Homo sapiens: one gene and its partner. The protein of the gene in region 2 interacts with the protein of the main gene of each other region in a pairwise test. Each region holds a gene or a part of one and is shown on either strand. Other genes may lie near its edges.

The links. Proteins that work in one complex are often made in the same cells at the same time.
Region 1: the proteins of TTC12 (region 2) and PAK1 interact in binary tests that used the Homo sapiens proteins (3 or more experiments, as listed by UniProt).

Annotation. Positions count from the first base shown.
Region 1 is NC_000011.10:77,321,517-77,324,094, forward strand, and holds the end of PAK1 (serine/threonine-protein kinase PAK 1), read right to left. Parts: intron 1,845-2,578; coding exon 1,758-1,844; 3' UTR 1,639-1,757; coding exon of another isoform or gene 1,621-1,638; 3' UTR 501-1,620; downstream 1-500. UniProt on the Homo sapiens protein: Protein kinase involved in intracellular signaling pathways downstream of integrins and receptor-type kinases that plays an important role in cytoskeleton dynamics, in cell adhesion, migration, proliferation, apoptosis, mitosis, and in vesicle-mediated transport processes.
Region 2 is NC_000011.10:113,359,583-113,363,082, reverse strand, and holds part of TTC12 (tetratricopeptide repeat protein 12), read right to left. Parts: intron 3,144-3,500; coding exon 3,075-3,143; intron 683-3,074; coding exon 581-682; intron 1-580. UniProt on the Homo sapiens protein: Cytoplasmic protein that plays a role in the proper assembly of dynein arm complexes in motile cilia in both respiratory cells and sperm flagella.

The sequences.
Region 1 (2,578 bases), about 36 Mb from region 2:
TGAGTGGAAACAATAACAGGCACAAAAGAATATATCTATTATGATATGTTTATTTAAAGTTCAAAAACTGGCCGAACTAAAATCTACTTGTATTGGAACACACCTGAATGTGATGAAAGTATACAGAAAAGCAAGAAAGTTATTTAAATAAAAGTCAAGATGGTGGTTACCTCTTAGGTGGGGGCTATAATGAGAAAGGAAGGACAAGATAGAGAAGGTTCTTACTGTCAGTGTTCCATTTCTTGATTTGGTGGATACAAGTGTGTTTATAATTATTCTTTAAACAATACAAATGGTTTTGGCCCATTTCTCTTAATTTATATTTAAAATAAAAGTGTTAAAAAGAAAGAATACACATTCAGGTATATAGTGGTAAAGGGGCATTCTATCTGCAACTTACCACTCTCAAATGGTTCAGGAAGAAACTACTCATTATTTCATATAAAAAATTAGAAAAGGAAAGAAAAAACGAAGAGAAAAAAGAAAGGCATACTCCAATAGAATATTTTCATCTCCTTTTATTGACAGAAATAGAAATTTGTGCTGCAGAGGCAGTAGTACCTCAGAGCATGAGAAGGTAGTCAATGGGGCTGACATGACAAGCCACAATGCTGGCCAGGGGTCCTACCATAGTGGGAGAACCAAAACCACAAAAATAGCAGGAGGTAGCAAACATCCCCAACACCCAGTGTAAGCATTTCCATTTGCAGAGAGCTTGGCCATGCATCTTAAAAACGGGGTCCCCTCACAGCTGGCAGGGTATCATGTCAGGCCACCAAATCCATCCAGAACTAACATGCAGTCTCTAATTTGGAGACTCTTTATTGTGACCAAAAGATTTGGACCATTAGAAGATCCAAGTTAATCTTTCAGCTCCTTATCCTAGGCAGAAAAAGGGGCTGAGTTCCTGAAACATCACACAAGTAGAGCTGGACAGGTGCTGATGCCCAGCCTTGCTCTAAAAGTAGTCACCATTTTCCCCGACTTCTCAACACTGCTCTCACTCAGTATGTGCCCTAGAAAACCTCTCAATGTTATAAACAAGGGACAGGATAGGGGCAGCAGCCTAGGGTATGCAGGGAATCAAAAGCTGCTACATAGCCGAGAGCATTTCACAAGAAACAGCATGGGAACACTATTGGGTCAAGGTCCTCCCGAACAGCTGCTAGAAGCACACACAAAGAAAAATGTGGTTGTTCTCCCATGTCAGGATCAGCTGAGCCAAAGTCATGGTCCAGGAAGCTGAGCCTCTTCATGTCCCTGGCAGATTATCAAACCCCATGGCATTCCCAAGCTGTTCCAGTTTTCAAGTACAATGAGGTGTCTGGGCAGTTGAGTCACAGAAAAGCAAGCACTAAAGAAATCTCAATTGATTACAAATTGATAATATTATCAAACCATAAATTTATATAGTCAAGAATTAATTGTGGGAGATGGTTATGAAGGAGGTGAGGATTTTGACACACGGAAGACTAGAAACATTTATTTATATAAACCCTTAATCATAAACCACCCTCATATCCATGAATTGGGAGGAAATTCCTTATTTAGAAATGGCCATCATCTGATTAGTCATTCAGTTGCAGTTCTCTTCAATGCTGGACACACGGTTTCCAAGGATCAAAGTCTTGAGGAGTGCTAGATCAGGAAATGGGAGAAGCAAGGCAAGGAGAAGAGGGCATCAGGAGTTGGAATTTCTGAAATGTGCATTTATCTCACAGAAGGCTTGGCACAATGAGGCTGGGGTGAGTGTGGTTTTAGTGATTGTTCTTTGTTGCCTCCTTAGCTGCAGCAATCAGTGGAGTGAGGCTGGAGAGGGGCTTGGCAATCTTCAGGAATTGATGCTAGAAAGGAGAAAAATAGCAAAAGACACATGACTATTTAACATTCTTCCCCAGTAACCATTACAAGACATAAAGGCATCTTTGTTTGTAAAGGGTGCTGTGTGGAAAGCTTCTGATCATCCCCAAATTGAAGGACATCTTAAAACAGACCACTTTGGAAAACTGTTTGGCAGCATCTACTTACAGATAAATACATCTACCTATACTCTAGTAATTCCAATCCTAGGTATATTCCCAAGAGAAATTAGTTTGTATAGCCACCAAAAGACATACACAGAAATGTTCATAAAAGATTTGCTTATAATAGCCAATAACCAGAAAGAACCCAAATGTCCAAGAGAATGGAAAAATGAATAGTGTTATATTCATATAATACTATACAGAAAATTACACAGCAATACAATAAGTAATTGGTACACTGACAAATGGGTTGAATCTCACAGACACATTAAGGGAAAGAAGCCAGACAAGCAAGTTCATATTGTATTATTCCATTTCTTCCGAGGTAAGCCTAACCATGGTGATAATCAGAATAATAATTACCTCTGGGGAAGGTATTAATAGATCATGACCCAGTAGTATATCGCAATACTGCATTTTAGGAGCATTGATCTAGGAATTTATTGTTCTATCCTCAAATCCAATAATGCTAATCATTCAGTAAAAAGTTCAGTAGCTTGGTCCTTTCCCAAATCACTTTCACTGGGCTGTACTTTGGGCCATACCTTCAACAT
Region 2 (3,500 bases):
GGGCACACACATCATAGGTGGGATTCTGAGATGGCAGCCTAGTGTATTAATCCCCTTCGCCCTTGCAGGTGAATCCAGATAACTGCTCTACTGGCTTGCTTAGATTCACCACACTCATCTCACAGGGAAATCCCAACATCCTTTGGTCACATGGTAATTCTGCAGGCTACATGTCTCATAGATGGAGTTCCATCCAACACTCTCCAGATAACTGTATAAAGCATCATGAGTAGCAAAACCTGAGCAGAACAATGTGCCTGAGAAACGTTACAGAAAGCCACTCAGATCATTTTTATCAAGAACAGTGGCCATATATTTTTAAGTCAGGCTTGAGGGGTAAGCAGGTTTTATAGATGTATCTAATGAACAATTTTCTTATTTATTCAACAATCTGTTGTTGATGTTCAGAGTATGGTCTGGGTAGACAGGCAGAAGCAAATCCCTATCCAAGAAGTTTAAAATCTAGCAAGGAAGAAATGGCAGCACATTAACCAAACAAAGCCCACCTTAATTCTGTTCCCCGAATAAAATAGGAGACTTCTGTACATTTCAGGGGTTGTAACCAATAAAGTGATCTTACCTTCAGGAATTTCATCATTTTCTTTACCACTCCTGCTCGCAAGGCCTCCTCAACAATTTTCAGAGAGGAAGAAAGGGTCCGGCTCAGAACACCAGCAGCTCTCTGAGTACAGCAGAAAGAGGATAATTAAATGTCCTTTTCAGAAATGCTGACAACCTTTAAAAGCTAACGGGGAGTTTGGTGAGGCAAAAGCAATCATTATATTGGAAGCAAAATATAAAAAATATGATGGCCAAATAATAGAAAGCACTGTTCTTTTTAATAAAGCTGTCAAGGAGCTGTAATCATAGCCCCTTGCCACCCAGAGGCCCATATTATTTCAGCTTCACACAGGATCAACCAGTTCCACTCTGAGAAAGGAAGTTCTCCCTTGTGATTCCTCCCAGAGCTCTGATATCAGCAGGCCCTTTATAAGGAGATGTTTGATTTCCTGGATTGGTCTTCTGTGTCATTTATCTTTATCTTTTCGAATCTTTGTCTTTTGTTCTAGTTTCTGGGATAGTTCATTTACTTTATTTCCCGGCTCTTCTTTCTTTTTTTTTTTTTTTAAATAAATGCCAAGCTGTTACTCTTTTATGGATATAACTATCTTAAATCTTTCTCAGGATACAAATGATAGTTACTATTTTTTTCTTCTGTTTCCTATATCATCTCTATTTCTTTTGGATCAATTTTTATGTTTATCTTGGTTTTCCTATTTATGTGTGTAGCTTTCCTGCAATGTCTGGTTGACCCTTTACCTGCCCAATCACATGTATGAAAAAAGCAAGAAAATATGTTTGGGCATGCTATGTTTATGGGAAGTTTATCAGAAGTATGGAAAGATATAGAGGTGGCACCCCCGTATACTAGAAAGAAAAATGTTTTCTCCAGTTTTTCAGTTCTTTAGAGATAAAAGTGTTCTGATTTTATGCCTGGAGGATAGATGCCTGCCAGCAAACGCAGCTCCACTGCCTTGTACTTCTGCTCTCTGTTGTATCGGGAGTTTTGAAATCTTCATCCTCTCCAGGGTATTATAAGGCAAACCTGCTACTGCCCAGCTACGTGTTCCTCCATTTGTACTCCATACAAAGGTTTCCTCAGCCCTGCCTCATTAATTACCACCCTTGCAGCTGTTCTCCATCTTCAGGAAACTTGTTAAAATTACTTACCTATTGGTAACCATTGCCTGTTCACTGTCAACGTAGGTCTCTACTTTTTTTGTTCCCCCCCAATGGCTTTAATCTCATTTTAATGAGGTCTCCAGAGGGAGAAAAGATAAACTTGTGTATTATCAATCTTGTTTCCCTAATCTGCTTCCTAAAGATCCTAGAATTTTGCTATAGTTGACACCACGGATCCCCTTTCAGGCCCAAGACAGTGGAGACTGTGCTAGACAAGGACCAGATGCCCATGGTGAAGCTGCTGCTCTGCTCAGCAAGCTGGGAAGCACCCAACGTGGCACACAAGGAATGCTGGGGAAATCTGGCCCAAGAGCTCTCCTAAAGGTTTACTCAGGCACTAGTGTAGGCTCACCTTTAGGTCTGGACCATCCGGAAACGGTGGTGCTTACCACTTTGGGGGTCATAGACCTCTTTTGAGGATCTGATGAAAGCTACGATGCCCCGTCTGTGAAAATGCACACGCACAAAACCTTTGCCCTATCCTGTCTGAATTGACTTTGGGGACGTTTAAAGAGTGCTACCCCCAAACAGGGTATGTTGGATCTACTCAGAACATTTTTTAAACTGTGGAGGCAGTCCTCAGTCTGCAACCCTTGAAAGGCTGGTTTCCCAGACCCACCCTAGATGTGGCCCTAATTGCTTCCCTAGCCATTAGGGTCCTGCCCTGACAGGGAGAAAAACGGGTGATCACTTAATGTGAGTGAAGAATACGTTCTAGGGTGATGGCAAATAGCCTCTTGAATCATACTAATATTCTTCTCCTGATGCACTGTGCTAACATATAGGCCTTTCTCAGTTTTCTTATTCAAATGTCAGACACAGAATTGAGAAAGCCATTTCAGCATATATTTTAAAAAGAGGGTAAAACTATTATGCACAAACAACCTCTAGGATCACTGGCTTAAAATATGGGCTTGGCTTTTTTTTTTTCTTATGGAAAAAAGGGATTCTAAATAAGTTGGACACTTGATCTGTCCAATTTGCACAGGATATTTTGAAATAGGACAGATCGGATCGATTATATCATCTAAGCTGGTTAAATTTCAGACCATACGGAAGGGGGATTCTTAAGTTGGGTTCCTGGACTCTAGGGGATCCACAGATGACGGACACAGCAAGGAGGTCACCAAATCTCTGAAACTGTAGACAAAACCTGGTATTTATGTGCTTGTGTACATTATTCTGAATAGTATATCCACACCATATCTCAGAGTCAGCAGATTCTCAAAGGTGGCAACTTCAAAAAGATTACACTGATAATAAAACAAAACAAAACAAAACAAAACAAGAACAATGGAAGCTGCTTCTGGATTTCCCTGGGAGAAACTTACTGTCAGGATTCCTCCATCCTGGCTGTTTAGTAAAGACAGGCACCTTCTGCTCACCTCCACAGCCCAAACCTACAACAATGGGGAGAGGCCAGCAGGAGATTTTAATTTTCTGACAATCTGAATTCTCAGCGGAGCTTCTTCTGAGCACCGTCTCCTTTTTAGCACCACCACACTATGCCCAGGTTCCCTCACAACACCATCTTTTACTGCTTTTATTCCTCCCCATGTCTGTCTCCCCTAACTCCAGGGCATTACCCTGATAGCAGGAACCGCCTTTTATTTGACTTTGTAAATGCAGCACCTCATACTCTGCTCAGCACACCTTGGATACCCAGTCTGTTTTCTGAGTGAATACATGACTGAGTGGTGATCCATCCATCCCTCAGCAGAGCAAAGGGAGAGCGCATCCCTCCAGCCTTTTCCCAT